Linked DNA regions of Homo sapiens: region 2 is linked to region 1. The links come from fine-mapping of genetic effects on gene expression. A gene starts in region 1. The other region holds a variant in brackets. All regions are shown on one strand. Distances are between the middles of the regions.

The links. PIP is the estimated chance that this variant, and not a neighbour inherited with it, causes the effect.
Region 2: its variant is fine-mapped to the expression of ING4 in whole blood (INTERVAL, PIP 0.94).

Annotation. Positions count from the first base shown.
Region 1 is chr12:6,658,665-6,671,082 of GRCh38, forward strand. ING4 (inhibitor of growth family member 4) reads right to left here and starts at 4,455. Exons shown (of 8, transcript NM_016162.4): 1 at 4,401-4,455. The coding sequence starts at 4,437. ZNF384 (zinc finger protein 384) reads right to left here. Exons shown (of 12, transcript NM_001385745.1): 10 at 12,096-12,174; 11 at 10,367-10,525; 12 at 7,813-9,451. The coding sequence ends at 9,050. RefSeq lists an enhancer at 4,426-4,485.
Region 2 is chr12:6,555,230-6,567,647 of GRCh38, forward strand. It overlaps NOP2 (NOP2 nucleolar protein), which reads right to left. Exons shown (of 16, transcript NM_001258308.2): 3 at 11,548-11,593; 4 at 11,300-11,388; 5 at 10,872-11,107; 6 at 8,662-8,717; 7 at 8,385-8,542; 8 at 8,086-8,285; 9 at 7,852-7,941; 10 at 6,655-6,742; 11 at 6,435-6,575; 12 at 5,702-5,841; 13 at 5,469-5,558; 14 at 5,218-5,340; 15 at 4,869-5,097; 16 at 1,642-2,413. The coding sequence ends at 1,764. IFFO1 (intermediate filament family orphan 1) reads right to left here and starts at 813. Exons shown (of 10, transcript NM_001193457.2): 1 at 28-813. The coding sequence starts at 800. RefSeq lists silencers at 251-430, 541-780, 831-990. The variant A/G (reference allele first, on the strand shown) is at 5,950.

The sequences.
Region 1 (12,418 bases):
GACAGAGCAAGACACTGACTCAAAAAAACAAAAACAAAAACAAACACAAAAATAAAAAATGCAAACCTAATCAAGTCACTCTCCCGCTTATAACCTTCTGGTCACTTCCTACTGCTCTGAAGATGTTCTGCGCTTTCTGGCCCTTGCTTACCTCACACCAGCCTGAACTCATGTCAGTCTCCCTTTGTGCTCTGCTTTGCCCATACTGGCCTCCTCGCACTGCCTCAAACTGGCCTGTGCTCCTCCTGCCATTTGGCTTTCCACATGCTGTTCTCTCTAGTTGGAATGCACCGCTCGCTTTTCCTCATCCCATCCACCCCATCCCTCTTGGCCTATTAAATTCCTGTTCGTTCTTCCAAAGTTCAGCTCAAACTCAACTTTCCCAGACTCTGTTAACTGCCCTCGATCTATGTCAAGGTATTCTAGCCACCTTTTTAAAGCACTTATCCAACTGTAATTAAATAAATGTGTAATTAGTTGGCTGGGTGCGGTGGCCCATGCCTGTAATCCAGCACTCTGGAAGGCAGGTGGATCACTCAAGGCCAGGAGTTCAAGACCAGCCTTGGCAGCCTGGCAAAACCCCATCTCTACTAAAAATACAAAAATTAGGGCCAGGCACGGTGGCTCATGCCTGTAATTCTAGCACTTTGGGAGGCCGAGGCGGGTGGCTCACTTGAAGCCAGGAGTTCAAGACCAGCCTGGCCAACATGGTGAAACCTGTAATCCCAGATACTTGGGAGGCTGAGGCACAAGAATTGCTTAAATCCGGGAGGTGGAGGTTGCAGTGAGCTGAGATCGCACCACTGCACTTCAGCCTGGGTGACAGAGTGCGACTCCATCTCAAAAACAAAACAAAACAAAAATTAGGCCAGGCGCGGTGGCTCACACCTGTAATCCCGGCACTTTGGGTGGCCGAGGAGAGCAGATTACGAGGTCAGGAGATTGAGACCATCCTGGCTAACATGGTGAAACCCCGTCTCTACTAAAAATACAAAAAAATTAGCTGGCCGTGGTGGCGGGCGCCTGTAGTCCCAGCTACTCGGGAGGCTGAGGCAGGAGAGTGGCGTGCATCCAGGAGGTGGAGCTTTCAGTGAGCCGAGATCGCTCCACTGCACTCCAGCCTGGGCGACAGAGCGAGACTCTGTCTCAAAAAAAAAAAAAAAAAATAGATGGGCATGGTGGCCTGTGGCTGTAGTTCCAGTTACTCAAGAGACTGAGGCAGGACAATTGCTTGAACCAGGGAGGTAGAGGTTGCAGCCCGGGCAAAAGAGCAAGACTGTTTCAAAAAACAAAAAAATTAAAAAAAATAATGTGTAATTAGTTATTTGGTATCTGTCTCCCCAGGCCGAACATGGCTATCATATTCTCTCCTGTTTCCATAGTGTTTAGAATTATGACTTGCAAAGAGCAGGTACTCAGTAAATACTTGAATAAATGCATGAATATTTGTCACCCCAGTACAAGAGAAATCTCTTGCCAAGACTCCACCTAAAACTTTAAAAATGCCTCTACTTGCTGGGCACAGTGGCTCACGCCTGTAATCCCAGCATTCTGGGAGGCCAAGGCAGGTAGATCGCTTGATCTCAGGAGTCTGAGACCAGCCTGGGCAATATGGCCAGATCCTGTCTCTATAAAAATTAAATATATATATAAAAAATAAAAGGCCTGGTACGGTGGCTCATGCCTGTAATCCCAGCACTCTGGGAGGCCAAGGTGGGTGGATCACCTGAGGTTGGGAGTTTGAGACCAGCCTGGCCAACACAGTGAAACCTCATCTCTACTAAAAATACAAAAATTAGCTGGGTATGGTGGCGGGCACTGTAATCCTAGCTACTCAAGAGGCTGAGGCAGGAGAATCACTTGAACCCGGGAGGCAGAGGTTGCAGTGGGCCAAGATCGCACCATTGCGCTCCAGCCTGGGTGACAGAGTGAGACTCTGTCTCAAAAACAAACAAACAAACAGAAAAACTAAAATAAAATAAATAAAAAAAAATAAAATGCCTCTACTGTTTAAACCTACAACTTCAGGTCTGCTACCACCAGTTCACAAGACTGAGTCACTGGTGATTTACCAAATCTAATGGTGTTATTAAGCCTATCCTAAAAAATATCTCTGCAGCAGTTGGCATGATCTTTTCTCCGCTGAGTAACTTTCTTTTCTTTTCTTTTGAGGTGTAGTGTCGCTCTTGTCGCCCAGGCTGGAGTGCAATGGCGCAATCTCAGGTTCAAGGAATTCTTGTGCCTCAGCCTCCCAAGTAGCTGGGATTACAGGCGTCTGCCACCACGCCCAGCTAATTTTTGTATTTTTAGTAGAGACGGGGTTTCACTATGTTAGCCAGGCTGGTCTTGGAACTCCTGACCTAAGGCGATCCACCCATCTCAGCCTCCCAATGTGCTAGGATTATAGGCGTGAGCCACCGCTCCCAGCCTTTTTGTTTTTGTTTTTTTTTTGAGGCGGAGTCTCACTCTGTTGCCCAGGCTGGAGTGCAGTGGCATGATCTCGGCCCACTGCAACCTCCACCTCCCAGGTTCAAGCGATTCTCCTGCCTTAGCCTCCTAAGTAGCTGGGACTACAGGGGCACACCACCACACCTGGCTATTTTTTTTATTTTTAGTAGAGACGGGGTTTCACCATGTTAGCCAGGCTGGTCTCGATCTCCTGACCTCATGATCCGCCTGCCTCAGCCTCCCAAAGTGTTGGGATTACAGGCATGAGCCACCGTGCCTGGCCACCAGCCTTTGTTTTTTTTTTTTTTTTTTTTTTTGAGAGGGACACGGAGTCTTTCTCTGTCACCCAGGCTGGAGTGCAGTGGTATGTATGATCTTAGCTCACTGCAATCTTCACCTGCTGGGTTCAAGTGATTCTCCTGACTCAGCCTCCCAAGTAGCTGGGATTACAGTCACATGCCACCATGCCCAGCTAATTTTTTTTTTTTTTTAAAGTAGAGACTGGGCTTCACCATGTTGGACAGGGTGATCTCAAACTCCTGACCTCAAGTGATCTGCCCGCCTTGGCCTCCCAAAGTGCTGAGATTACAGGCATGAGCTACTGTGCCCAGCCTGTCTACCTCACTTTCTAAGCAGGAAGAAGCCACCTTAGATTCTTCCTTCTCTCTCAACCACTCAGTCATTCAGTCAGTCCTTTCATATTTAACTCCTAAATACTTCTGTAACTCCCTAAAATCAGGTTCTTATCTCTGTCCTGGAATGTTATCACTAATTGATCTCTGTTATCAACAATATCATGCTCCAATTTACCATATATTAGTCATTTTCCTCTATAAAAATCATACTCTACTTTAAAATGCAAACTTCTTCGTTTGGCTTAAAAGACCTTGTCCAATCTAGCCTCAGCCTCTTTCTCCAGTCTCCTTTCTCAATTTCTTACCTTAGATTCATAAATATCAAATACGCTGACCTCTGAGTCATAAATATCAAACACCCTTGACCTTGCCACAAACCCATCACAGTACCTTTGCGGATGCTTTCCCCAACCTGGAATTCCTTTTTTCTCTCCTCACTGGCAAATAACCTTCAAGACCCTATTCAAACATCACCTCCGCTGTAAAGCTTTTCCTACATCCCCAGGTAATTACCCCCCTTTTCTCCAGGGTTGCCTACCAAGTGTCCTTTTTAATGTATTTCCATTATCTCACTTGTCACAGTGTTTTATAATTATTTGCAGAATCTGTTTCCTACTAGATCGTGAGCTTCTTGAGGGCAGGAGCCTTGTCTTACTCATTTTTCTATCCCTAGTGCCTGCCATTATGTCTGACCCATAGCAGGACCTCAATAAATATTTGTTGAATAAATGACTCCGGGCCCTAAAACAAATGTAAGCGCACAGAGCAATAGGCTTTCTGCAGGGGTGGTTTACATAAATCGCATAAACACCAGATTTTCATTTGATGGGAATTAGATCTTTACTCCATGAAGAGAAGCGTTCTAGTTCATCATCTGACAGTGGTCACTCATCACCACCACTCTCAACCCCATGAGAAGCCACTTTTGAGGAAGAATGGAGTGGAGGAGAGGTCTTTACCGCTTCTCCAAATGGCAGTGTGTGATAACGATTCTGAACGACTATGGGGAAAAAAATCTACCGAGGCTGGAGACCCTGGAGAATGGGGGCAGCAACTATCTTCCTGGCCATGCACACTAGCCCTTCAAGACACGTCTCTAACCCCCACACCGCACCCCTCCCTCGTCTACACCCATCAGCGGGGCCTCGATCCTGCTGCCCCGCCCCCTCTTTCTCCGCACCCTCCAATATTTCCTGCCACAGAACCGCTTCATAATTGTGACCTTCTCGTCACTGGAACTTAAGGGCTACAGATCCTCTCATCCCTGATCCCCGCACCACTCTGCAGCCCCGACCCCCACCTCCAGCCTGCTCTTACTGTCCAGATAATGTTCCAAATACATCCCCGCAGCCATCTCGAAGCAAAACAAAGCAACTTCCGATCCGCCCCGGAAGTGACTGTAACGCGACAGGGGCCGAAGCCATTTTGCGGCTAAAGCCTTTCCGCCCTTAAAAGGAGAACTTCCGCCCTTAAAAGGAGAACTTCCGCCCTTAAAGGAGAACTTCCGCCCTTACTATATTACCGCCGGTACACATCCGCCCGACACTGAAACTTTTCCTTTTGCATGGTAGCCACGACCGCCCACAGTGAGGCGGCTGTAGCCCGCTTCCGCCCTTACAGACACCCCAGGACGCGACCGAGACAGGTATGACGTCACTGGAGGTCGCCATTTTGCATTCTCTAGCAAACTTTTTTCCCTCCAAAACGGGAATGTATGGTAATCCGTGCAGGGGTAACTGTTCACTTTAGGCTCATATTGCGTAAACATACCTTCTCAGCAACTGGAAGATCCAACTTTTTTTCCCTCTTTTGCAGAATGACTTTTTTCAAGCCAGTTAGTTTCTTAAGGAAGTTGGGGAAGAGTATCAGGCCTTGAGACATTTAAACCGTCTGAATTTCTATTCACTCACACAAACACCATCTCCCCCAGCATTATTTTTTTAACTTGAGAAAGATGATCACCTTTCTACTTATAAATACAAAGAATGACTCATAATAAAGCTATAATTCTGCACATCTTTTGTCAGAGCTCCTGTACGTTACACTAGAATACACTTTCACATATAAAATATTACTTCCTGCCTTGCCCTCTTGCTTTTTTTTTTTTTTTTTTGAGACAGAATTTTCACTCTTATTGCCCAGGCTGGAGTGCAATGGCGTGATCATGGCTCACCGCAACCTCCACCTCCCGGGTTCAAGTGATTCTTCTGTCTCAGCCTCCCGTGTAGCTGGGATTACAGGTATGCACCATCACGCCAGACTAATTTTGTATTTTTAGTAGAGATGGGGTTTCTCCATGTCGGTGAGGCTGGTCTCGAACTTCCGACCTCAGGTGATCTGCCCACCTCAGCCTCTCAAAGTGCTGGGATTACAGGTGCGAACCACTGTGCCTGGCCCCTCTTGCTACTCTCTAAGGGGGAAATCTCGTGTTTTTGTTTTCCTTTTGTTTATATGTGATGTTAGCATCATAATTCTGAAGGGATTGAGGGATGCAGCAGTATCACTACTGGGCTAGTTGGCTAGTTAGTTGCTAGCCATCACTCTAGTCAGCTATGGTAGAGTGATTTCTATGGTTTTCATCAGAATGGGAAGCAGTCAAGGGTATGAGAGGCTGCCAACACACTAGGCTGTCAACACACTGCCAACACAAAGGCCATAACCTAATAGTGGTGTTAGTAAGATAGTATTTTAGAGATAGCTGCCACCCCTCACACTTTTCGTACCCTCACACATCCTTCATAAGAATTACCAATGTCTTACGGCAAGTTTTTAAAGAGACAGACTTTCAGCTATATAATTTCTACCAAATATGTGGAGAAGAGGAACTTCCAACCCGGGGCGGATTGGAAGTTGCTTTGTTTTGCTTCGAGATGGATGCAGGGATGTATTTGAAACATTATCTGGACAGTAAGAGCAGGCTGGAGGAGGGGGTTCAGGGGCTGTAGAGTGGTGGGGGTATCAGAGCTGAAAGGATCTGTAGCCTGTAAACCCCAGGTTTACTAGTGTGCAGGTAGTAAGATACAGCAATAGAATCCGGGAAACTGCTCTAATTACAAAAGTCATGCTTTTCGGTAACTTGATCTCTGTGCCTGTTTTACTATACAATGAGACTACTACCTCCCTCATAGGGTTGTTGGAATAAGTGAGTGTGAGTGTATCCATAAAAAGAGTAGATTCTAGTTCTAATACTGGTGATGAAGTTAGGGCCATTAGGGCCTTTTCAAGAGTTGGTGAGAGTGGGAGGAAAAAGCAGTAAATATGCAGGGAGCTAAGAAACATTGGCATATTTGGTCATATGTGATACATTCATTGGTATTACACAACATATTGAGACACCATCTTAGGTGCCCACACAGGATATCTAGCACTAAATTAAGTGGGCTTTATTTATCCCAGCCCAACTACATAACAAGTACTATTGGCCAGCAGTCCCAGAGTTCTCAGGATGTGGGAGCTTGGTCACAACTTTCACAACTTTTTCGGTGCTTAAAGCAAGGTTTTTTTTTTTTTGTTTTTTTTTTTTTTTCCAGACAGAATCTCGCTCTGTGGCCCAGGCTGGAGTGCAGTGGTGCAATCCCGGCTCACTGCAACCTCCGCCTCCCAGGTTCAAGTCATTCTTCTGCCTCAGCCTGCAGCTGGGACTACAGGCGCGTGCCACCACACCTGGCTAATTTTTGTATTTTTATTTTACTTTTTTGAGAGAGAGTCTCACTCTGTCGCCCAGGCTGGAGTGCCATGGCACGATCTTGGCTCACTGCAACCTCTGCCTCCTAGGTTCAAAAGATTCTCCTGCCTCAGCCTCCTGAGTAGCTGGGATTGCAGGCGCCCACCACTATGCCTAGCTTATTTTTTGTATTTTCAGTAGAGACGGGGTTTCACCATACTGGCCAGGCTGGTCTCGAGCTCCTAACCTCATGATTCACCTGTCTCGGCCTCCCAAAGTGCTGGGATTACAGGCGTGAGCCACCGTGCACGGCCATCAATTTTTGTATTTTTAGTAGAGATGGGGTTTCACCATGTTGGCCAGGCTGGTCTTGAACTCCTGACGTCAAGTAGTCTGCCTGCCTCGCCCTCCCAAAATGCTGGGATTACAGGCGTGAGCCACCGCACCCAGCCTTAAAGCAAGTTACTTAATTCTCAAAAAAGGTATCTTCAGAGTTATCTAGTCCAATCCCTTCACTAACAGTTGAAGAAGCACCCTGGCCAACACTGGTTGATGGTAGGCAAAGGGCTGAAGTCCAGGTTTCATGACCACATTCTACTCCATAGTACTACAGCTCTCCTGCATAAATCAATCTTGCACCCCTTAACCGGTTATGATTTCCACAAGGTAACAAATACACATATGTATACACATTGCCAACTGCAAGCCCCTCTTCCACAGACTCAGGCAGGAGTGTAGGTCCTTTCAAGAGGCTTCCATTTTTCTTCCATAGGGAGCTTAGCTGTTTTGTTAACACATAACCAAAGCCTTGCTCTCACATATTTAGGCAATGCAATCCCCATGACAGAATGTGTATGTAGAAGTCCTCATAAACCAGGATTTCACTGGAGACATCATGAAACTGTACCCTTCCATGACTGGAGAATTGCACAAATGGGGCATCATCACACAAGCACTTGTTCATCACACACACACTCTGGTATAAATCCTCAGTACTGTTCTTGGACATCTCCCCAAATACCTTTTCCGCATGCTCGCTCACATCAGTAGCTCCACTGCCTCTGATCCTTTTACATGAATTTATTTCTATACAATGTTCTAAAAACACCCCTTGGTTTGTACATAAGTTTTTTTCTTTTTTTCTTCATTTTTAAATTACTTTATAACAACTGGTTTCCTGATTTTTTTTTTAATTTCCTTTCCTCTGAAATCTGCCATGATTTAAAAAAAAAAAAAAAAGACAAAAAGAAAAATGCTGTGGCTAGAGGACAGGGGTGGAGAGAGGGAAAAAAAGGACAAAAATAAACAAAACATCAAATATGAAAATTCTCAGAGATAATGCATTTATAAACACAGAAATGGTTACAACAAAGATGGCCGTGATGAGTGAGTATAATATATTTATATATATATATTTATATATAAATCCGTGTCCGGCATCTGACTGTGGCACCTAGGGAGCTAAGTCCAGTCCTTGCGTTTGCCTTGAACTCTCCCTTCTCCGCAACACCCCTGTTTTGGAGTTTCACAGATAACACAAAGCCTCCCACAGCTCCTTGGGGGTGGGTTGGGGAGACTGAGAGTATAGGGTCTTTGTAGGCAGAGAAGGAGAGAGGCTTCAAGGAAATCCGTAAAACCATAACACACACTTCTAAGCCACCTGTGACCAACTTGGGAATTTCTGGCCCCTTGGGGACCACATCTCAGCCCTTGCCCCCTTCAAATAAAAGGAGGTCTAGCCCCTACCCCAAATCTCCTTCTACCAGCAGTCAATAGGAAGCAAAGTGAGACGATGTAGGGGAAGAAATGGCTCTCAGGGACTGAGGCATTTGAGAAACCTCTGTTCTTTTGCAGGCAAGAATAGAACAAGAGGCTGGTTGCATTTGGGGCTCCCTTTTCTCTGTTATCTGGGAGGGCCAGCCTCTAGTCTTACATCAGCCCAAACTTTGAGGATAAGGAGGGTAAGGATAGGGTAAGTGGCCACACTGGACAAGGTTCTATGAGGTCATAGCAAATCCTTCCCTTGAGCACCGACCCCCAGTTTTAGAAGCTTTGCTTGGGAGGGGAGGCTGCTGGATGACACCATCAGCTCAGTATTCCTTTGCAATCAGGAGGGCTGATGTTCCTTTTGAAGAAGAGTTCAGAAAAAGGATGGTATCCTGTGAAGGAAAGCCGTGACAGAGGCCCAAGGAGATGGAGCCAAGGCCTGTCAAGGAAGAAAAGGACTTTTCCCACCAAGAGTTGGAGAAAGAAGACACCAGGACTACTTCTTCCTCTTCCCAGTGGGTGGCAGCACGGATCTCTAAGAGCTGGCCAGGTGCTCCACCTGGATGGTGCTGGTGGTGACAGTGAGGCAGATGTCCTTATGATGCTCCGCCGTCTTATACGGGGTCAGGTCAAAGGAACACTGGGGTGGAGGGTTGGGATTGCTGTCCCCACCACCCCCACCCTGGGGGGCTGCCCCAGGAGACTGGAAGTGTGGTGGTGGCTGTTGCTGCTGCTGCTGCTGCTGCTGCTGCTGCTGCTGCTGCTGCTGTGATGCCTGGGAGGCCTGGGCCTGGGCCTGGGCTTGAGCCTGAGCCTGAGCCTGGGCTTGAGCTTGAGCCTGGGCCTGGGCCACTGCTGCCGCTGCTGCTGCTGCCTGCACCTGTTGCTGAAGATCAGGCGGGTTGTGTTTGCGCATATGTTTCATAAGGTATGTTTCCTGAGGGAGATGGTAAAAAGAAGTTGAGGGATAAAGAGGAAGGAAAAGAGATTACTTGTAACTAGCACCCCAGGCTCTGATTCTGCTGTAAGCAGAGTAAGCTTTATACTGGTTTTCTGGAGCCAAGACTGAGCAAAACTCAAGTAGCACTTTCAGTGGCTCACTACTGAGAAAAAAAAGAGAGGAACCTTTAGAAGTCACTCAACATTCAACTGGCAAAGGAATGAGCTGCTATTTTTTTCAAAGACCCCTGAATGAAACAACTTTACAACCTTTTCTGGAGTCTCATGGAAAATATCTAACTGGGCCAGGTGCGGTGGCTCACACCTGTAATCCCAGTACTTTGGGAGGCTGAGGTAGGTGGATCACTTGAGGTCAGGAGTTTGAGACCAGCCTGGGCAACATGGTGAAACCCCATGTCTACTAAAAATACAAAAAGTTGCTGGGCATGGCAACATGCACCTGTAATCCCACCTACTTGGGAGGCTGAGGCAGGAGAATCGCTTGAACCCAGGAGGTGGAGGTTACAGTGAGCCGAGCCGAGATCACACCACTGCACTCCAGCCTGGGTGACAGGGCGAGACTGTGTCTCAAAAAGAAAAAAAAAAAAAAAAGAAGAAGAAAATGCCTAACTGAAATCCAGCTCCCCTCAAAATTTCAAGTGGCTTTATTTTGCCTTATGTTTAAGTAAAATGAAGAATTACAGCTTATGCGTCTCTATAGGATTAGGAGATCAGGCATCCCCTAAATTCCTCAGAATGGGTCTAATTAATTTCTGAATATTTACCTGTTCTGCTAAGTTGGAGCTAGGGAGGCAGGGTATTCACTGCAACAGATCTCTACCCAGAAAATGGGGTGAAGTGGACTGTACTCTTAGAGGACTATGAGGAAGGAGAGAAGAAACGGAGCACTCACTGATGTGTATGCCCGACTGCAGATAGTGCAGGTGTACACCTTGGCATGCTTCACTGTGTGCGTAGACAGGTGCACCTCTAGTGAGGCTGCATCCGTGTACGCCCGATGACAGTTGTGGCACTTGAAGGGTTTATCTTTGTTGTGTTGCCGTCTGTGGGACTGAGAAAATTGGGAGAAACCAGAATGAATACATTGTACTCTTTCCTCCTGCCCCCTTGACCTCGATGGAAAGCAAAAAGGTAGGTGTCAGGCCTCCCAGCTTCTCCCTCTATCTGAAGAAAGTAGAAATTGTTTCAAATGAAACTTGAGAAGCTACAGGCTAAGGGTGGAAGCATACCTCATGTAGCACATACCAGGATCCCAAGACAGCTTATGCCCGTCTCACCAGTCCAGTGGTTCTTAAAATGAGGCATGGGGATCTTTAGGGAACACTAAGACCTTCACAGGGGGCCCACAGGGTCAAAACTCTTTTTTTTTTTTTTTCCCAGATGAAGTCTCTCACTCTGTCGCTCAGGTTGGAGTGCAGCGGCACAATCTCGGCTCATTGCAACCTCCGCTTCCCGGGTTCAAGCGATTCTCCTGCCTCAGCCTGCAAGTAGCTGGGACTACAGGCACATGCCACCAGGCCTGGCTAATTTTTTTTGTATTTTTAGTAGAGACAAGGTTTCACCGTGTTGGCCAGGCTGGTTTCCAACTCCTGAGCTCAGGTGATCCGCCCGCCTCCGCCGCCCAAAGTGCTGAGATTACAGGTGTGAGCCACCGCGCCCAGCCAAATCTTTTCAAAATAATAAGACAATGTTTGCCTTTGTCTCTCTTGAACCTGGGAAGTTGCAGTAAGCTGAAATCACACCACTGCACTCCAGCCTAGGTGACCCAGCGAGCCTCTGTCTCAAACACGCACACGCGCGCGCGCACACACACACACACACACAAACACAAAGATGAAAAACCTAACTGAAATCTTGTTCCCCTCAAAATTTCAAGTGGCTTCATTGTGCCTTATGTTTTACATGTAACCCTTACAGAGGTTACATGATGTGTGATAACACAATAGGCCAGATGCAGCAGATCTGAGAATCTACTCATCTTCTAGCTTAAGACATTAAAGACCCCTGTGCCAGGTGCGGTGACTCATGCTTGCAATCCTAGCACTTTGGGGAGGCTGAGGCGGGAGGATGGCCTGTGTCCAGGAGTTCGAGACCAGCCTAGGGAAGATAGCAAGACCCCATCTCTACGAAAATGAAAAAAACAGCCAGGTGTGATGGTGCATGCCTAGAATCCCAGCTACTTGGGAGGCTGAGGTGGAAGGATCACTTGAGACCGGGAGGCTGAGGCTGCAGTGGGCCATGATAACACCACTGCACTCAGCCTGGGTGACAGAGCAAGGTCCTGTCCCAAAAATAAAAAATAGACACCTGCAAAAATGTATAATAATGCCATTCTTCTCACTCAGTTGTTTTTGGAGGGTCTTGGAATATGTTATTTATGTTAACACACAATGGGTTTATTTTTGTTCTTTCTAAACAGATTACTATTATAAATATTTTTCAGGTTTTTCAGTTTTACAACGTCTATGTAGACAGCTATTACCCACATAAACAAAAACTCTTTGGGTCCCTCAATAATGTTTGAGTGTAAAGGAGTCCTGAAAACATTTGAGAACCACGATACTATTCAAATGGCCCCATGTCTCAGACTCAAGGTCTTGTGTGGAGGGTGGAACATTTACCTGCAGATTGGAGAGTTGTGTGAAGGCTTTCTCACAGCCTGGGTGTGCACATTTGTATGGTCTATCACCAGTGTGGATTCTGCACAGGATAAGAGAAAAAAGGGAAAGAATGTCAGCAAGACCATTTAGGAACTGGCTCAACAAATCTTCTCCAGGCCCATCCTGCTCTCCTAAGGAGGCACATCAGATGGGCCTCCAAGAGGCACCAGCCTTCCTCTCTGATGTGGATCAGGTACTGATGATTTGCTTCTGGTCAATGCCTGCATCACTCAGCTCAAGCTGAGGCTCCTCTCTGCTGGGGGAGGAGAGACTGAGGACTTGGC
Region 2 (12,418 bases), 100 kb before region 1:
GACCTGTCCCCCTTTCCCAATCCCTACCTCCGCTTGTACTCGTCCCGCTCCCGCTTCACTTTGGCCAGCACGTTGTAGAGAGCGCGGATCTCGGGCGTGATGGTGTCGATCTGGACGCCCACCCCATCCGGGTGCACCCACGACAAGCCAGGCCCTTGCACCAGAGTGGGCTCCAGTCCCGGCCCGAGCCGGCGGGCGTGCGAGAACGACCAGATGGTGCCGGGCATGAAGCGGGCCGACGAGGAATAGGTGGTGGAGGTGGAGGTGGAGGACGACGAGAGGCTGGCCGCGGAGGGCGCGAGGGGGCCGGCCGGGGAGCGCGCGGGCGAGCCCAGCACGCGCGCCGAAGGGCTGCAGACAGCGGCCGGCCGGGCGCCCAGCTGCAGCCCCAGGGGCCGGATGGGGCTGACGAAGCCGGTCTGCACTGCCTGGTCGCGACGACCCAGGCCCCGCCGGCCCTGCTTACCCTCCTCCAGCGCTTGCTGCAGTTGCTTCTCCAACAGCCGGTTCCGGCGCTCCAGCTCATGCACCTTGGCCAGGAAGCAGCGGAACCGGAGGTTCAGGGTCTTGAGCACGTTGATGTTGGAGCCCAGGTCATTGCGGAGGGCCATGGCGGCAGGCGGGGCCGGGCCCGGCCCGGGCGGCGAGTAGGCAGCAGGGCCGGCCGGCGAGAGAGGCGCCGGGGGCAAGTCTCCTCCCCCGGCGAAGTGGTCGCCTCCCAGTGAGTCCCCCAGTGGCCCGGCCAGGCCCTGCTGCTCCTGCTGCAGGAGGAAGAGGTTGGGGCCGAATAACGGATTCATGGCTGCGCCTTCTGCTGGGAGATGCAGACCGGTGCAGGAGCAGGGATGGAAGGCGAGCCAGAAGAGCCAATGCGGCGCCGGCGGGACAGAGCCGACCAATCAGGCGGCTCGGCAGCGGGGCAGAGGTCAGGGGGCGGGCCGAGGGGAAGCCAATGACAGGCTCCAATTGGAGGCCGGACCCTGGACCTTTCCGGGTCTGAGGCCGAGCCCTGTGATGAGGGGAGCCACCGCCTGGACTCCAGCCGGGGTGGCGTAAAGCCCAGGACCTCCAGTACCCCATGGGTTCTGGTGGCAAGCCCATCTCCCCTACACGACTTTTTTTTTTTTTGAGACCGAGTCTCACTGTCGCCCGGGCTGGAGTGCAGTGGCGCGATCTTGGCTCACTGCAACCTCAGCCTCCCAGGTTCAAGCGATTCTCCTGCTTCAGTCTCCCGAGTAGCTGGGATTACAGGCACCCGCCACCACACCCGGCTGATTTTTTGTATTTTTAGTAGAGACGAGGTTTCGCCATGTTAGCCAGGCTGGTCTCGAACACCTGACCTCAGGTGATCCACCCGCCTTGGCCTCCCAGAAAGTGCTGGGATTACAGGCATGAGCTAGTGTGCCCCGCCTTCCCCTACACTTCTATTGCCCTCCTCTCCCCGGAGTTCAATCACCCCTAGCTCTGACTCCAGGGCTTTCCCTTCCTGGGAAAACCCAAGGATGCAGGAGCCTAAAACTGACCTTATTTCTCAGTAGCACCCAACCATTCCCTCTCCTCAGAAGATCCCAGTCCCACCTCCCATCTTTACCCTTAAAGCGGCAAAGGCAGCACCCAGTTCCCTCAAAAATACTCAGTGGCCAGAGGTTTTAAAATGTGTATTAAATTTCATGGGTATGCACAGTAGAGAAGGCATCCTCACAGAGGCAAGAGTTCCAACCTGGTGACAATGGCAGTGAGCCACCCGTCTAGTTTTCAACCATCTAAGATAGCAGCAGCTGGCTGTTGCCCCTGGACTGAGATTTCTTCCTCTTTGCTGGTGGGGGGCGGCTGGAACGGATGGGAGACACAGTGGGAGGCTGAGGCCCCTTGGGGGTATCATTCTGTTTCTGGAAGGCAGCTTTCTCAAAAGGCTGCTCTGGCAACTGCTGCTTCTCAACCCCCTTGGCCCTTCCAAGGGGCTGATGATGGTCCTTAGGTTTCAGGGTGGCCTGAGTCTTGGATGGGGATAACACAGCCGGTGTTTGTGTGTCTGTGCCCTTGGGAGGGGCATTCTGCCTGAGGAAAGCAACTTTCTTGGAGGACTGTAATTTAGGTGATCGTTGCTTTAGCTTCCCAGTCACCTTTGGCTCCCTGATCCCTTCGGCTTTTCCAGCTGGCTGACTGCTATCCTGGAAGCTGGAGGAAGCTTGGGTCTTTGTGACAGAAGGTACAGTGGACAATTCTGAGTCTGCCCCTTTGGAGATGCCATTCAGCTTCTGGAAGGAGGCCTTCTTGGGATGTTGCTGTTTCTGCAGCTGCTGCTTTGTCTTTGCAGCCCCCTTGGCTTTCTTGGCTGGCTGGCTGCTGTTCTCAGACTTGGGGATGACCTGAGGCAAGTCTACATTTGTAGGTGTGGCTGTTTCAGAATTTCCTGGGGTTAAAATTAAACAGATGGTGTCAGAAAATGGGCCTTATCACCATATTTTAATATTCTCATATTAAAATATGAGAATTGCCATTTCCTGGGCAGGAGCTCCACACAATTAGGTCAGTGCCTAAGAGCAGATTACCTAAATTCCCATTACTTAATATAACTTGGCCTTTACTCAAGTCCTAGTTGAACCTTGTATTAAAAGATCACTGCCTATAGGCCAGGCGTGGTGGCTCACACCTGTAATTCCAGCACTTTGGGAGGCCAAGGCAAGTGGATTGCTTGAGGCCAGGAGTTCAAGACCAGCCTAGCCCACATGGTGAAACCATCTCTACTAAAAATACAAAAATTAGCCAGGGATGGTGGTACACACCTGTAATCCTAGCTACTTGGGAGTCTGAGGCACAAGAATCGCTTGAACCTGGAAGGTGGAGGTTGCAATGAGCTGAGATTGCACCACTGCAGTCCAGCCTGAGCGACAAAGCAAGACACCGTCTCAAAAAAAAAAAAAAAAAAAAAAAAATCACTGCCTATCCTTGGGCCAAAAGGTTTCTACAGGAAGCTGCGCCCTCTTGAGGACAGGAAGTAACAAGATGCTGTAAGGAAGAGGTGATTCTCAGGGTTTTGGGGTTTTTTTTTTCTTTTTTTGAGATGGAATCTCACTCTGTCACCCAGGCTGGAGTGCAGTGGTGTGATCTCGGCTCACTGCAACCTCTGCCTCCTGGGTTCAAGCAATTCTCCTGCCTCAGCCTCCGGACAATCACAACCGTGCGCCACCATGTCCGGCTAATTTTTGTATTTTTAGTAGAGATGAGGTTTCACCATGTTGACCAGCTGGTCTTGAACTCCTGACCTCAGGTGATCCACCTGCCTCAGCCACCCAAAGTGCTGGGGTTACAGGCGCGAGCCACCACGCCCGGCCTCGCAGGGTCTTCTAAATGAATTTGAAGCACTAGGCTTTATTTATCTTTTTTTTTTTTTTTTTGAGGTAGAGTCTCACTGTGTTGCCCAGGCTGGAGTACAGTGGTGCCATCATAGCTCACTGCAACCTCAAACTCCTGGGGCTCAAGGGATCCTCCTACCTCAGCCTCCAGAGTAGCTGGAACTACTGTCTCCCTTTGTTGCCCAGACAGGTCTCAAACTCGTGGTCTTAAGCAATCTTCCCACCTCAGCCTCCCAAAGTACTGGGATTTATAGGCATGAGCCATCACCACACCTGGCCTATTTATTTTTTAAATCAGAGAAGTTTCTTTCCATGTGAATTGTGATGAAGTGCGGGATAATTAAAATATGTACTTTTTAAGTTATAGCAAATTTTACTATTCCTTTTTTTTGAGATGGAGTTTTGCTCGTTGCCCAGGCTGAAATGCAATAGCGTGATCTCGGCTTACTGCAACCTCCACCTCCCAGGTTCAAGTGATTCTCCTGCCTCAGCCTCCTGAGTAGTTGGGACTACAGGCACGTACCACCACACCTAGCTAATTTTTTTTTTTGGAGACGGAGTCTCACTCTGTCGCCCAGGCTGGAGTGCAGTGGCACAATCTCAGCTCACTGCAAGCTCCGCCTCCCGGGTTCATGCCATTCTCCTGCCTCAGCCTCCCGAGTAGCTGGGACTACAGGCGCCCACCACCAAGCTCAGCTAATTTTTTATATTTTTAGTAGAGATGGGGGTTTCACTGTGTTAGCCAGGATGGTCTCGATCTCCTGACCTCGTGATCCACCCGTCTTGGCCTCCCAAAGTGCTGGGATTACAGGCGTGAGCCACCGTGCCTGGCCACACCCAGCTAATTCTTATATTTTTAGTAGAGACAGGGTTTCACCGTGTCGAATTCCTGACCTCAGGTGAGTGCTGGGATTACAGGCATGAGCCACCACGCCCAGACAAATTCTACTATTTCTAAAGTAGCACTTCTCTCCCTCTTCCAACTAAACCCAGGGTTATATCCCAGTAAGCAGTGCTCTCAAGGCTGTTTCAGAAAACCCCACCCTTCCCTTGAGATCCAGGCCAGACTCCTCAAGATGGCTGAGAAAACAATCTGCAATGAGTGTGAAGGGCTCAGAGAACTGCTGACAAAGCTCTGTGGAGCTCTGTTCCAACCCAGTGCTGAGATTGCTGGACCAGCAGAGGTCCAGTACCAGTAAGTCCACCCTGTGCCAAGAAGGAAAAGAAACCACAACCTGCATTTGGAATGCATTTAGTGCTGAACAACTGCAGCCACTTGGCAGAATAAAGGAACAGGCCTCCATCCATATGAACACTTTAGCCTGTTCACATGGGGTCCAGCACTCAAAAGCAATTCTAGCTGGAATGAGAGGGTTCTCTCAGCCAAGCATGCAAAGGCTGGAGTAAGGGATGCATGAATCTTTCCTTTCCCTTCCTCTTGTCACACCATAAAGCCTCCTGAAAGGTGGAAAGAGCAAAGGTGGTGACGAAGGGAAGAAAAAGATTACTTACCTGTCTGGGACTGAGGGATAGAATTGGAAAATTTCTTGAACTTGGCAATGAAGAACCCATCCATATTGTGGGTATGAGGGTAGAAGCGTCGGGTAGAACGCAGACTGGGGTGGAAGCGCCTTTCTCGAAAGCGGGTAAAACCTTCCTGGCCAAAGTCTAGGCCCGTGGGCACCAGTCGCACATTCCTCTTTTTCAGAGCATAGTCTACCACCCACTCATTCTCTTCTACCTGGATGTGGGGGGAAGACAAAGAACGGAGGAAAAAGCAGAGCTGGAGCTGAAGGGAGCTCTAAGGGGCAAAGAGCCCCCCAGCCCAGCCTCCCCTGCTCTGCCATGGCAGAGGTCTCACTGTGATAGAACAGGTGCAGTAAACCAGGTAGCCTCCTGTCTTGGAGGTCGCATTGACAGAGTCAATAGCACTCAGGAGCAACTCCTTCTGGAGGTGAGCACAGCGCAGGATGTCCTTCTCATCCTGTCCCAAAAAGAGACCCAAAGGCAGCCTCAGGAGGAGAGGGGAGCCCAGAGGGTGTCCCCATCTCAGTTTCCAGCTCTACGAGACCCAGCCAAGGCCTCTCAGGGGCCCACCACCTGACTCCTCACCTTGTTAGTCTTCACGGCTGGATCCTTGGAGATGACCCCAGTGCCACTGCAGGGAGCATCCAGCAGTACTCGGTCAAAGCCCCCCACCACCTGGAGAAAAGATACAGATGAATCATATGTCTCTTCTGCAACCAGCAGGGCAATATTTACTAGGGTCGAGTCTAAACATTGAGGTCAGGAAGGGAGAAGGTCAACCGGAAGAAGCCTCAGAAGACACACAGCTCGAGTCTCACCTTGGGGAACTGGCGCCCATCATAGTGGCTGATAATGGTGTTGGTGACTCCCAGCCGATGCAAGTTGCCCACAACACTCTTGAGCCGCTCAGCATTGGCGTCATTGGCAAGGATCACACCCGTGTTCTTCATCAGCTGGGCTAAAGAGAGGGCAGTAACAGTGCTGATCAGCCAGTTCCACTGTCTCCACACTTGCTCCCACCCTCCTGTCCAGGAATCCACATGAGAAGTGTCATCACCTCAAGGCA[A/G]CTTCGCTCCCAACAAGCCTGCCTACTGTATAGGCTGATCCACTCTGCACTAGCCCCTGGTGATCGGCAAGTCTACCGATGTGGTTTTCCCATTTTTACCAAACACCTATGTGGTCCTACATACTAAATTACTTCTTTTAAGTGACAGCAGCTTAATAAAAGTTATGGCTGCTGACTATGTGCTGAACACTGCCAAGGACTTCTAAACGCATCATTTTAACCCTCACAATCCAAGCGTAATACAAGGGCCAACCCAAGCACAATTACCATCCCATTTTATGGATGACAAAAGAGAATCCATAGTCAGATGGGTAGTAAGTGGCACACTGGAACCCAGGCCGACTCCAGAAACTGGTCCTCACCACCCTGCTAGCTACCTGCACATTGTGTTCCATGAGCACTAGTGAGTCAGCAACCCCAGCAACCCCATCTACTTTCAAAAGCAAGACAGCCCGATGAATCCCACCTGCCTGCCCCTCTCATACCCATGTAGCTGGTCTTTCCTCCAGGGGCACAACACATGTCCAGGATCCGCTCATGTTCCTGGGGTGCCAAGGCCATGACGGGCAACATGCTGGAGGCTCCCTGCAGCATGTAGTGCCCAGCCAGGTACTCGGGGGTAGCACCTGTGGAGAAGGACCACCCTGTGACATGCGGTAGGGACAGGGACAGAGGTAGAAGGGCTCTTGGGTGGGGGAGACTTACCAATGGGCACAGAAGAATCATACACCACTAGTCCAGTCTTTGACCACTTGCCCAGGGGATCCAGGTTAACCCCACGATTGATTAGAGCCTGAAAAGGGATGAAGATTTTTTTTTTTTTTTTTTGAGATGGAGTCTCACTCTGTTGCCCAGGCTAGAGTGAGGTGGCGCAATCTCGGCTCACAGCAACCTCCACCTCCCAGATTCAAGCGATTCTCTCGTGCCTCAGCCTCCTGAGTAGCTGGGACAACGGGCATGTACCACCATGCCTGGCTAATTTTTGTATTTTTCATAGGATGGGGTTTCACCATGTTGGCCAGGCTGGTCTCTAACTCCTGACCTCAGGTGATCTGCCCGCCTCGGCCTCCCAAAGTGCTGGGATTACAGGCGTTGAGTCACCGCGCCCGGTAGGGATGAAGATTTTAATAACCTCATAGGCTACTCTACCCAGAAGACAGATGAAGACATTAAACACATGCTTCATAAAAACATGGCCCATACCCCACAACTCCTATAGTGCTTACTCCAAACACAGTCATCATGGAGTCATTGAGCAGTTTCTCTCTCCCACTCCATCCTATGGTGCCCTTTTTTCTTAACCTCAGGCTCCTAACTCAAGATCTGAACTTCATCCCAATGGAGCAGGATGCCACCTCCTGTTACTTTATTTCCTAGAAGTGGCATCTGATTTTCTAAGAGGCTGAGCCCCTCCACTATACTAAAAATTTAATGACATTGGTTATACCACATTACATTATTAGGTTTTCTTCACACCAGGAAATATACAACACATATAACCCAACAACTGACTTTACAACAGGGGTCTTTAACCTGGGGCCCCTGAACCCTTGGAAATGAGTTTAAAATATTGACTGTGCATATGTGTCTTTTTTGTGCAGTCAGGAATCATATTTCCCCAGCTCCTCAATGATCTCCCTCCAATTTCCTTGGGGGCAGCACGCTCATCCTGAAGTCTCATCATCCTAGTCACAGGGAGCAGAGTATGAACTTCCCATTCCACAGAGGTCCTAGGCCCCCAGATCCTATCCTGCCAGAGACATCAGGCCTCTGGGTTTGCCCCCCCAGGATCATGCTTAGGTCCTAAGGCCCCACCCAGTCAGGGTAGCACAGAGGAATCTCTGGAGTTGGCAGAAGTCACTTCCCTTCTGAGATGAGTGAGCCTCAAAGGCCACCCCTCACCTGTGCAAGGTCTCGGCGTCGGGTTTTCAAGGTATTGGTCCGGAGGGTGACGGGCCGAGGCACCTCATTAGCTTCTAAGAACTCCACCAGCTGCGGGGCAAGACAGCAGGGAATAAGTGAGGCTGGCTAAGGAGCTCAGTCAGAAGAGGGGAGCAAGGGGGCCGAACATCTTCCTTACACAGCGTAAGGAGGCGAGAAAAGAAAAGCAAAAGAGGCATTCTGGCAATCCAGTACCTCAGACAGAGGGAAGAGGTCCATGAGCTTGCCAAGCAGGAAGTCTCCATAGGAGTAGTAAATGGCCAGATCCTTCTTGAGCCGGTTCAGGTATTCAGAACGAGACCGCCCTTCCTCCCGCTGAGCCCCAAAATCACGCAGAATTCCCACAATATCCTGGATCCGCTTGTGAACTCGTTGCAGGTCTGGAGCCTGGGCATGTGGGCCTGTTAAGGAACTGTGTCATGATGTCCTAAGGCCTGGAAATCCCTCTCCCAACCACCTTCCTCCTAACTCTTCACTCTGCCCTGCAAGGATATCCTGCTCCATCTCCCCAGCAGGGGGCAGCACAAATGGTTCCTCATCCACATTGATCTGCAGGCCCCCATCTGCCTCTTCCACCTTTGGGGGGCCTGACTCAGGGGTCACTTCTTTCTCTTCCTCCTCGTCCTCGGTCTCCTCTTCACTCCACTGGATCCTAGAAACAGGTCCAGGAACAGAGTGATTCACAGACCAAAACAGATACCTCCTCCTTCCTCACAGCTTCCCCACCCCAGTGGCTTCCTATGCTCCATCCCAATAGCTTCCAAAACTCACCCAGCAGCAGCTTCCCGGGCCTTCTGCTTCCGAGCAGCTCTTTCAATGGGCAGCAACTGAAGAGAGACAAGGGCTATTAATACAGGCCTGCCCTTCCATCAGCCCTTGTAGCAGTTCTATCTCTATATCTTATTTTTTCGCTAAATAAAAATCCAACACTTGCTCTCAGAAGGAAATAGAGGAGCAAAGAAATGAAAATAAGATGGGCGCAGCATTGCTCACTGTTGAAACTAAGTAATGAGGGCATGGTGGCACACACCTGTAAATCCCAGCTACTTGGGAAGCTGAGGCAGGAGAATTGCTTGAACCCGGGAGGTGGAGGTTGCAGTGAGCCAAGACCGAGCCACTGCACTCCAGCCTGGGCAACAGAGAAAGACTTCATCTCAAAAAAAAAAAAAAAAAACCTAAGTAATAAATTAAAGGGTTCATTACATTTTTCTTTCTACTATTATGTTTTTCACTTTTCCATTAAGAAAAAAAAAAAACTTGAAAAATACCTGGATGTATAAAGAAGGACAAAAATGGCCCTTGACTACCATTCTGCCATATTTTTTTTGAGAGAAGTCTCGCTCTTGTCCCCCAGGCTGGAGTGCAATGGCGCGTCTTGGCTCACTGCAACCTCCGCCTCCCAGGTTCAAATGATTCTCCTGCCTCAGCCTCCCAAGTAGCTGGGATTATAGGCGCGCACCACCATGCCCAGCTAATTTTTTGTATTTTTAGCAGAGATGGGGTTTCACCATGATGGCCAAGCTGGTTTTGAACTCCTGACCTCAGGTGATCCGCCCACCTCGGCCTCCCAAAGTGCTGGGATTACAGGTGTGAGCCACCGTGCCTGGCCCATTTTGTCGTTTTTTTTTTTTTTTTACTTACTCTGTATTTTTCACATAATCCATTTTCAAGTTTGTTTCTTGCTTTTTAGACTTCAGTTACATCACAGGCATTTTCATAGACATAATGACCAGTGTAACTGCATCATATGCATGAACCATAACTTACTTAAGCATATTGTGTATTTTGGAAGTTTCCTGAGTTTTTGGCATTATGATCCACATGGTGCCTGCAAACCTAATAATGACCCTGTAGATACAAGGGGATGTAGGAAGGGGGTGCACATGGGGACCTTCTCTTTTTATTCTATACGATTCTAATAATACATCCACACACTAATTGTATAATAACTTCCTGCACCTCAGTAAAGAACTATTTGCTGACATTTTGGATCATCTTCCTTAATAGGGAATTACTATGTCAAAAGGAAGCAGTTATTTTTTTTTTTTTTTTTTGAGACAGTCTCACTCTGTCACCCAAGCTGGAGTGCAGTGGTAAGATCACAGCTCACTGCAGCCTCAACCTCCCAAGCTCCAGTCATCTTCCCGCTTCAGCATCCTGAGAAGCTGGGACTACAGGCGTACGCCACCACACCCAGCTAATTTTTAAACCATTTTTTAACTTAACTTTTTTTTTTTTTGAGACAGAGTCTCACTTTGTTGCCCAGGCTGGAGTGCAATGGCATGATCTCGGCTCACTGCCATCTCCGCCTCACAGGTTCAAGCAATTTTCCTGCCTCAGCCTCCCAGGTAGCTGGGATTACAGGCATATACCACCACACCAGCTAATTTTCATATTTTTAGTAGGGATGGGGTTTCGCCATATTGTCCAGGCTGGTCTCGAACTCCGGAGCTCAGGTGATCCGCCCACCTTGGCCTCCCAAAGTGCTAGGATTATAGGCATGAGCCACTGTGCCAGGCCAATTTTTTAATTTTTTGTAGATACGGGATCTCCCTATGTTGCCCAAGCTGGTCTCCAATTCCTGGGCTCAAGCAATCCTCCTGCCTCAGCCTCCCAAAGTGCTGGGATTACAGATGTGAGGCACCATACCCAGCCAAAAGGAACAAATTTTTCAAAGTTCTGAGATAACTGCTTTATAAAAAGTGCATTTCTGTGCCCATCAGTGGAGCACACCATTGTCCACCTTCCCATACCTACACCAAGACAGCCTTCTAGATTTTTTTAAATGCTCTATCCTACAGCTCTTTCAAACTTGTAGTGCACTGGGAGGATATAAGGCAGTAGGGAAACAGTGATGGAGCACAAAAACCCCTTTCCTCTAGTCAGGCTTATCCTTGCCACTAAGAAACAGTCTCAAGAATCTGGGAAAGAAACTAAATAGCAAGGATCCTTCTATGAATGCCCAAAAAGATGAATCTCACCGCTTCACCTTCCTCCTCATCCTCAGAGTTGGAGTCAGCTCCATAGTCATCTACCGTATCAGCATCGTCCTCGGAGCCCCAGAGGTCCCCGTGGTTCACCATACCATCTTCTTCAGAGTCTTCCTCCTCCTCTTCCTCATCACTGCCAGGTGCTGGGCGCTTCTTGCCTCGAGGAGCATTAAATAGGGACTGGGGTCCCTTCTTACCAGCTGTCTGGACAGCTCCTGCAGAGATCCCTAAGGGTTTGAAGAGTCCTGGACTAATGGCAGCCACACATTCCCTGGCCCCACACCCTGGGAGCCTGTACTTTCTACCCCTCAGAATGTCCTTTGGCTGTTCCTTTCACTCCGGAAATGTTTAGCGAGTTCTTCCCTACCCAGGACCCAAAGGGACTCCTCATGTAGCATCCAGCTCTTAGTTTCACGGACCTTTTGGTAGCTTTCCAGGCAATGGTTTGGCCTCAGGAGACTTATTTGTCTTAGGGGCTTCAACAGAGCCCAATCTCCTCTTGGCTGCCCTGAAAAGACACAAGAGATTCAAGGAGTGAAGAAATGGGAAGATACTTCCAGGCTCTGCCATTTCCACCATAGGGAAATGTGAGAGTCTAGAATTAACTCTGTGGTCAAAGATGAGCAGTACCAATTTAACCTACTTAAGTTTTGACACCCACACTTACCTCTTTCGAGCACGACTAGACAGCCTCTTGGAATTTTCGTCACTTACTGTTTAAAAAAGAAAAACGAGGCAGAACAAGTTACAGGGGACATTAAAAATAAATGGGAACGGAAATAAACATGGTAAGAGAATTAGTACACTAATTAAAAGGAGTCCATTTAAATCTCAGCCCTGTTATTATTTAATAACTGTATACAAGTTTCTTTTTTTTTTTTGAAATGGAGTTTCACTCTTGTCTTCCAGGCTGGAGTGCAATGGCGTGATCTCAACTCACTGCAACCTCCTTCTCCCAGATTCAAGCGATTCTATTGCCTCAGCCTCCCATCACCACACCCAGCTAATTGTTGTATTTTTAGTAAAGACAGGGTTTCACCATGTTGGCCAGGCTGGTCTCGAACACTGGACCTCAGGTGATCCACCTGCCTCGGCCTCCCAAAGTGTTTCCTTAATAGTGCCTCTCTCACAGGACTCTAAGATGATTAAGCGATATAACATGACCAACAAGTTTAATACAGTGCCCAGGACTTCCTACTATCTCAATAAACTGCATCCTTTATCCAATGCCCAACACAAACTCCCGGTCCAGTGTTACCTCCCACCAGTCTTCCACACAGTATACTACTACTCGGCATGAAGCAGCCAGATCCGTGCTTTTCCATTTCCACCCCTTCCAAAAGGCAAATCAGTGACTGACCCCTCCCCTTCACTACTTCCTCTTGCTACAATGTTACCCATTTTTCAAAACCCAGCTTAACAAAAACTTTTACAGTTCTGCATGGGCTCCCCCTTCCTCTGAACTCACAATTGTTTTAAATCACACTTTTCCCTTGCATGAATAATAGTTGTGTCCGTGTCTTCACATCTCTACGACC